Linked DNA regions of Homo sapiens. The protein of the gene in region 2 purifies or fractionates together with the protein of the main gene of each other region. This does not show direct contact. Each region holds a gene or a part of one and is shown on either strand. Other genes may lie near its edges.

Evidence for each region.
Region 1: the proteins of ASAP3 (region 2) and RAB11FIP3 purify together in Homo sapiens (affinity purification with western blotting, with the first as the bait; one study listed by BioGRID). This does not show direct contact.

The regions. Positions count from the first base shown.
Region 1 is NC_000016.10:519,508-523,674, forward strand, and holds the end of RAB11FIP3 (rab11 family-interacting protein 3), read left to right. Parts: intron 1-246; coding exon 247-384; intron 385-614; coding exon 615-770; intron 771-951; coding exon 952-1,092; intron 1,093-1,218; coding exon 1,219-1,332; 3' UTR 1,333-3,504; downstream 3,505-4,167. UniProt on the Homo sapiens protein: Downstream effector molecule for Rab11 GTPase which is involved in endocytic trafficking, cytokinesis and intracellular ciliogenesis by participating in membrane delivery. Recruited by Rab11 to endosomes where it links Rab11 to dynein motor complex.
Region 2 is NC_000001.11:23,435,421-23,439,224, forward strand, and holds part of ASAP3 (arf-GAP with SH3 domain, ANK repeat and PH domain-containing protein 3), read right to left. Parts: coding exon 3,741-3,804; intron 3,415-3,740; coding exon 3,327-3,414; intron 2,053-3,326; coding exon 2,004-2,052; intron 1,901-2,003; coding exon 1,710-1,900; intron 1,625-1,709; coding exon 1,491-1,624; intron 1,235-1,490; coding exon 1,140-1,234; intron 609-1,139; coding exon 431-608; intron 1-430. UniProt on the Homo sapiens protein: Promotes cell proliferation.

The DNA.
Region 1 (4,167 bases), on a different chromosome or scaffold from region 2:
GGTCCTTCCTGCCCCTCGTGAGAAACGGCCCTCGTGGCCTGCGTGTGCGCCTCTACCCAGAAGCAGGTGGCCTTGACCTCCACTGAGAGGCAGGAAGGCTCAGACCCAGCCCTGTCGCGCTCCAAGCACGGGCGCCACCGCGTTGCTGTTGGGAGACTCAGAGATTGGAGGGACAGACGGCCGGGGCAAGCTGCATGCACAGGTAGGTGCGTGACCCGCATCCAGGGCAGGTGTCCACCCCTGCAGGAGAAGCAGAAGCTGTTGGATGAGATAGAGTCGCTGACGCTGCGGCTCAGTGAAGAGCAGGAGAACAAGAGGAGAATGGGGGACAGGCTGAGTCACGAGAGGCACCAGTTCCAGAGGGACAAGGAGGCCACCCAGGAGGTGAGCACCCACCCTGCCCCACGCCCAGTCCTGCGCCCAGCCTGCCCCACGGGGAGCCTTTGTTTCCTGAGACGCTAGCTCTTGGCTGTGCTGCTTTGGGCATAGCCGCTGGTGTGTGTCGTCCTCCCGAGAGACGGCCAGATCAACCCTGAGGTTCTACAGCCAAGTGATGGCTGACGGTGGCCCCTGGGAGCCCAGGCCCCCCGGCTCACTGCACGGTTGCCCTGCAGCTGATCGAGGACCTCCGAAAGCAGCTGGAGCACCTGCAGCTCCTCAAGCTGGAGGCCGAGCAGCGGCGGGGCCGCAGCAGCAGCATGGGCCTGCAGGAGTACCACAGCCGCGCCCGGGAGAGCGAGCTGGAGCAGGAGGTCCGCAGGCTGAAGCAGGTGGGCAGGCCTGGGCCTCCCTCCCTCACACTCCTGCAGAAGCTTCCACAAGACTGGTTGGGAAGGGGGGGCCGTGGAGGGTCAGCATCTGAGCTGGAGGCCTTTTTCCCCGGGCAGTCCTTGTCCCTGCTCAGCCACCAGCAGGGGCCACAGCCCAGTAGTGATGTTGCTGTGCCTTCAGGACAACCGCAACCTGAAGGAGCAGAACGAGGAGCTGAACGGGCAGATCATTACCCTCAGCATCCAGGGCGCCAAGAGCCTCTTCTCCACAGCCTTCTCTGAGTCCCTGGCTGCAGAGATCAGCTCCGTCTCCCGAGATGAGGTAACACATCCCGTGTCTGCACGGTGTGGCCTGGGGTCCACAGTCTGCACTGTCTGTGCGCTGTGGTTTATGCGCTGTGGCCTGTGGCCCATGCGCCTCAGCTCTGACCACCTGCTTGCCCTACAGCTCATGGAGGCGATTCAGAAGCAGGAGGAGATCAACTTCCGCCTGCAGGACTACATCGACAGGATCATCGTGGCCATCATGGAGACCAACCCGTCCATCCTGGAGGTCAAGTAGAGGCAGGAAGGTCCAGCCTGAGCTGGATTCGGGACTCCAACACCCTGGAGTGGTTCCGTCAGACCATGAGGAGCCAAGACCAGCAGGTCCCACAGCCGACAGTGCCCAGAGCATGCAGGGAACCCTCGTGCAGCTGAGCTGGGGCCGCCAAAGACCGGGGCTGCCAAAGGGGCAGAGGGTGGTGGAGAGGAGAGGGAGAAAGGGAAGTCCCAGGGCCCGGGGTCCACAGAGGATGAGGGTTGTGGCAGGGCCGTCCATCAGCGCTGACCTTCCGGGGGCCCAGAGCTTCCCAGCCCTGAGTCAAGCTGGCCATGAACGCGTACACTTCAGTTCAGCAGGATGGGCTGGAGAGCCTCTCTGTGCAGCGGTGTGGGGTGAGCCCTGCTGTGGCCTCCTTGTGGTGGTCCCTCTTCCCACGTGCAGCCCTGTTGGGAAGAAAGGAAGAAAACAGGTCCCTCCAGGGGTGCTGCTGCCTAAGCCACCCACATAAGTACGCTGGTGCCGTGTCACCCATGTTGAGCCGCTCCTGATGGCTGACGGGCTCCCAGACCCTCACCTCGGACATGGTGGTGGGGGAAGGACGGGTGGGCAAGGCTGGTGCGTTCCCCAGCTCTCCCTACGCTGCTCGGGCCATTGCCCAGCCAGATGTGGTCACCTCAGTCCAGCTCTGGGGCCTCCAGGCCATGTGGCTGTTCCCACGGCCCAGTCCTCGCTGCAGTAACCCCTGGGGGCTCTGACCACCTATGGGGGCCGGGCAGGAGCCTCTGGGGCCTCCACTCCGACATCAGGACCTGAGATGACCGCTGTGTGGCGCTCTCTCCCTGGGCAGGGTGGATGCCACAGGCCCCTCTGGCTCCCAGGTGCTGCTTCTCCACAGGTGCGGCCTGGCCCGGCCTCCTAAAGGCCACACCCTCCCCACGCACTTCCCAGGCCAGAATCCAAACATCGGGAACCCTGTTTTCTTCTGGGTGTGTCTCACTTAGAAATCGTGGTTCTTCCCCGAGGGTGCATGTTGCAGGAGGGAGAGGGCAGGGAAGACTCACAGCAGAGCAGGAGGGGGCCTGTGCTTCTCGGGGTCTGCACCCCAGGCACAGCGGTGTCACCCCGCAGGACCGCGGGCCTGCCCCAACCCCCAGCATTCCCGGGTGGGCCCAGACCCCATCACCAAGACTGGCCACCCGCTGCGTGTGTGTGCGCGCGCGTGTACGTGTGGCCCCACATCCGCCGCCTTCCACGCTAGGATGTAAGAGGTCGCCTCCTATTGTACATTTGGGGAAAGCCTTGGGTGTAAATCAGTGTAAACTTGGAGGAGAGATTTTTCTATCATGTAGAGTAGGTATTTTTTATAGATTGAAGGTTGATCAATTTTTTAATACTTTCAAGAGAAAACTGTGTATACACATGAAATATATATATATATATATATATATATATGTATAATATATAAAGACTGGCACCCTGCCTCTCTGTGCCCAGGCCCAGCCCTGGTGACATGGCACCACTCAGCAGTGCTGTCACTGTAAGCATGGACTCCCAGGAGACAGTGTGGGAAACGCTCCTGCTTTAATTCCCCGAGAAACGGCTCTTCCTGCCTGGATGCAGGAGGGCAGGGGCCACCACAGATTAAAGCTGTTACTGCACACGCAGAGGCCGGCTTCTTCCTCCAGGGGGGCCACAGGGTGGGGTGGGAGTCTTCTGGGCCTGGCCCAGCTTCCCTCAAGGCGTCCGAGGCCATCAGTTGTCTGAGCTCAGAACCCAGCAGACCTGCCTGGCTCTGCAGCTTGGTCAGACTAAGACCCTTCCAAGGCCGTAGGATTGCACCTCCAGGCCCAGTGGAGCCTGGCAGCTTTCCAGCCAGGTTCTGGATCCTGACGAGCTGCTGAGACAGCATCAAGGTGGGGCAGGTGGGGCGGGGCAAATTGGGCAGCACAGGGCTGTGTGGGCATCAGGGCTCTGGGTCACACGCCTCTGGGGACGTACGTCCCATGTCGGGAGAGCCGTCAAAACGTCCCCGGGATTAAGAGAAGAGTGGGGGGCAGGGCGCAGAGGCTCACGCCATAATCTCAGCACTTTGGGAGGCCAAGGCAGGAGGATCGCTTGAACCCGGGAGTTCAAGACCAGCCTGGGCAACATAGCAAGGCCCCATCTCTAAAAAATAAAAAATTAACCAGGCATTGTGGTGCGCACCTATAGTCCCAGTTCCTTGGGAGGCTGAGGTGGGAGAATTGCTTGAGTCCAGGAGACGGAGGTTACAGTGAGCTGTGATCACACCGCTGCACTCCAGCCTGGGCGACAGCGAGACCCCATTTCAGAAAGAATTTAAAAGGGCAGTGATGTGCAGGGTGGTGGGAGGACATCCCCCAGAAGAGGGGGCAGACACAGTACCAGCACCACAGGCACGGGAAGGTGAGGAGGCAGGTCCCGACGGAAGTGGGCTCCCGAGGTCATGGGCAGCCAGGGAGTCTGAGAGAGCTCAGTGCCACTGCAGCCACAAAGAATGGCCTGCGGGGAGTGGTCCCATCTGATCAAGAGTCCCCCAAAAACACAAGCCTTGAAAACTGGACCACCTGGTCCAGCATCCAGGAAGCGGACTGTGCATCTGCGGCTCTCGCTCTCCCGCCCCCCGCGCGAGATGCCCGCCTGCCTGTCACTCTCAGATGCAGATGGAGATGGAGAAACCAAGGCCCAGGGAAGCTGAGGACCCAGGTCTGCCAGTCCCCTCAGCCCAGCTGCTGCTTGCGGGCTGGTGACCAGAAGAGGACCAGGCGTGGCCTACAGTGAGGAGTCCTTGAACCCTCAGTGCAGGTGCAGCAGAATGGTTCCAGGTCACAGGGC
Region 2 (3,804 bases):
TGTTCTTGGAATAGCCAAAGCAATGTGGCCTTCCTGGCTCTAAACTGACATGCCCTTATATTTCAGGGCTATTTAGGTGAAAGAAAAAGATATTAACGTTTATTGCATGCCCATTGTACACTAAGCCCTTTATATACATGACTTCTCACTTCATCACCGTGGGTGCTATTATTAACCCCTTTTATAGATGAGGAAATGAGACTCAGAGAAGTAACCTGCCCTAGATCACACAGCTAGGAAAAAACAGAGCCAGGATTCCCACCCAGGTCTGCCTGACTGAAGCTGTGCTCTTTCCCACTTACCACTCTGATGGGTGAGATCTGAGCAGATGTCAGAGGTGGGGTGGAGGGGAGTAACAGCTGGTCCTGGAGAAGAACTGGGGAATATGTTAGACAGGTGGGTTATAAGTGGCCCTTGGAGGGGTTCTCACCTGTGCATCAGGCCCTGGCAGCGGCTGTCCAAAGTCCTGCCCATTGGCAAAGGCCTCCAGTACCGACAGGAGGTCCCTGTTGCAAATGGCTGTCCAGAGTCGCTGAGGCTCAGGTGTGCACCGGCGTGCAAACCTATGCTCCACATACTTGGCCATAATGTAGTCCCTGCGGGTGCCCCTACCAAAAACAACCACAGGATCTCAGAGCATGGACCGTGTCTGCCCAGCTGATCCCTGGGGCCCTCCCACAGGAGATACAGCTCTCTTTTTCTCCAGAACCATGTCCTGAAGACGTCTAGATCTGAGGCTCCCCTCTCCCCAGGCTTTTTTTTTAGACAGTCTCACTCTATTGCCCAGGAGGGAGTGCAGTGGCGCAATCTCGTTTCACTACAACCTCTGCTTCCAGGGTTCAAGCAATTCTAGTGCCTCAACCTCCTGAGTAGCTGGAATTACAGGCGTGTGCCACCACGCCCAGCTAATTCTTGTATTTTGAGTACAGGCGGGGTTTTGCCATCTTAGCCGGGCTGGTCTCAAATTCCTGACCTCAAGTGATCCGCCCGCCTTGGCCTCCCAAAGTGCTGGGATTACAGGCGTGAGCCACTGCGCCCAGCCTCCCCAGACTTCTGATCCAAGACTTTTCTACGACCCTGGACACTGCGGAGGCAGAATCCCCTAGGCAGGGTGCCCCTCTCTCTGAGAATCCCCTTACATGTCACTCTCAGCTGAGGGTTTAGGGCCGCCGTGTGAGGGTAGCTGGGCCTCCATGACCTCATTGAAGCTCGTGTTTCCCATGTTCAAGGCCAGCTGGAGTCGTAGGAAAATAGACGTGGGGCGGAGTAAGACCGGGCGGTTAAGCCTGCATAGGGTGGAGCTCCAAGCCCCCAGAGTCCCGCCCCTCGGCCGCCCTCCCGGTTCAGGCCCCGCCCCTGACCACCCGCTACCTGGCTTGTCCCAGCCCACCTCGGCCAGGTCCCACCCACAACCTGCAAGCCCCGCCCCCGGATGAAACTACACCCCTAACTCCGCTTCTGGCCCCTTCCAGGCCCCGCCCCGCCCTCACCAACAACTCGGAGGGGCCCAGCAGGTCCAAGGTGAGTGACTGCATGCGCGAAAAGCGCACGCCCAGTTCGCGGTGGACGCCCGAGCACTGGATGCAGGTGAGCACGCCCAGGTTGGTGCTGAGCCACGTGGGGTCTGCAGAGGAAAGCAGCTGGAGCCTGGAGGTGCAGCCCCTCCCCTCCACTTAAGCCTCCCTCCTGCCCCGGCCCCGGGGACCGACCTGCAGCCCCGCAGTCGCAGCACTGGCTATTCCCAGGCCTGCTCTTCACCTCCGCGATGAGCAGCTTTGTGAGGTCGTGCGGCTCCCCATCATGGCCGGCGGACCCCCAGGACCCCGGGCCAGCGCTGGGCTCCCCGAGGAAGGCGCTGCTCAGGGCTTCGTCCTTGCTGTTCTGCAACACTGACACCCACCTGCGGAGATTGAACGGGGTGGGATGGGGATGTCAAGTGGGAAGAGATAGGGCCGCCGGCCCCCACCCACAAGGCTGGCCGGGCTGGCCGAGGGGGCACTCACGCCTCACACTCGTGCTCGTCCTCTGCCTGAAAGTGGTACGTCCGGTTGTCTGTCGGGAGAGAAGGGGGCTTCTGACCCACAGAAATGCTGCTGGCCTTCCCGGAGCCCAGGGAGCCCCCACCAAAGCCGCTGGGGCCACATGGAGATGTGTCCCTGACAAGTCGGACTCTCAAGCTAGGAGTGGGAAGGGAGTGGAATGACAGTGGCCAGCACCAGGGGCAGTTTCTCAGAACTGGCCTCCGAAGTAGGATCCCAACAAAGCTCCCTCTGCGTGAAGCCCTGGTTCCAGGCTCAGACGAGGTCTCAAAGGGCTTGGAACCCCAGAGAACCCAGCTCTGAGGCAGGGCATCCTCTGAACCAACTGTCACCACCCCACTGGGCCCTTCCTGGTCTCCTCCTGGGCGACCAGGCCTCCTGTCTGGTCTCCCTGCTTCCCATTTCCCCTTTCCCCTAGCCTGTACCAGCTCCCAACTGTTGTGCCCAAGGCTCTGCTCTAATTACACCACTGCCCTGCCCCAAGATCTCCCATGGCTCTCTATTGCCAGGAAATAAGGTCCAAACTTTTAAGAGGGATTTCCAGGCCTCATCTCTCACTCTGCTACATGAACCCTCCACTCTGGCCAAACCGGCCAGACCCACTCTCCTGCTTCCATGCCTTTCATCATGCTAATCCTGTCTCCTCAAAAGCCCCCACCCCACAAACTCTTCATTCTACATGTCCTTCAAGGCTAAACTCAAATACTGTCTCCTCCAGGAGCCTTTCCTGATTCCCCACAGCAGTGCAGGCCTTCCTGCTCCCTAATCTTCTATGGGGCTATATCTGCACCCATCTTCTGGACAGCCCCCTCATCTTACAGTCCTGGGTACCCACCCCACACCCCTGCCAGAGAGTTTCCTGAGGACAAGATCTAGGTCTTTCTCAGCCTGTGTCTGCTCTCACACAAAGCCTGCACCAAAGGCTCTGAAGAACGAAAAGTAGAAAATGTAAAGAAACAATAATTTCATCTCCTTCAAGTCTGGGTATTTGGGAAAAAAAGGTAAAATTTTAAAAAAAGAAATAATTTCAAAACCCAGATGACCCAAATCCACTCAAATATGCTCTGTATAAATAGCCACATTTATTATGTAAAGTGGGTGCATTTTGACATTTAATGTGATGTGGGTATCCTAGACCTAAGGATTCTTATGTCTGCAGTAGCAGCAATTCGACACCATGTGTGGAACTGGACACAGACCCCTCACTGAAGCCCCCCGGGAGCTGACAGGTGTCTTAGAGAAGCCCTGAGCAGCTGTGGGTGGGGGAGAGGCACAGGGACCACTCACGGGTCACCAGGTCGAAGCACTTTTTCTCCTCAGGGTTTGGCCTCACTTGGCACGTCAGCAGGGTCAGCTTCACCGGGGGCCGGTTTATCTGTGGGAATTTAGGGGCGGAGGATGTATGCATTACCTCTGGCCCTCCACATTCTTTAGGCCTCCATTTCCCACTCTGTTAAATGGGCATAATCATCCTGTTCCATTTGTGTTTCTCCTCACCCAGCAGCACCTCAAGGATGTGAAGTGTAGACTAAGACTAGATTGGGGCCTTCAGGTCCCATCTGTCCTCCCAAACGGGTCTCCAGCTCCCTGGACCTAGGTTTGGGGGCCAGTCTTAGAGGGAGGGCTTGACATTATTTGCTCAGAACACCAGAAGAAGAGGGTCCATCGTGCCCTGAGACTCCCACCACCTCTAGGCCTCACCGTGCTGTGTGAGATGGTCAGGCAGCCATACTTGACTCCACACTTCCTTTTCTGCCAGACTCTT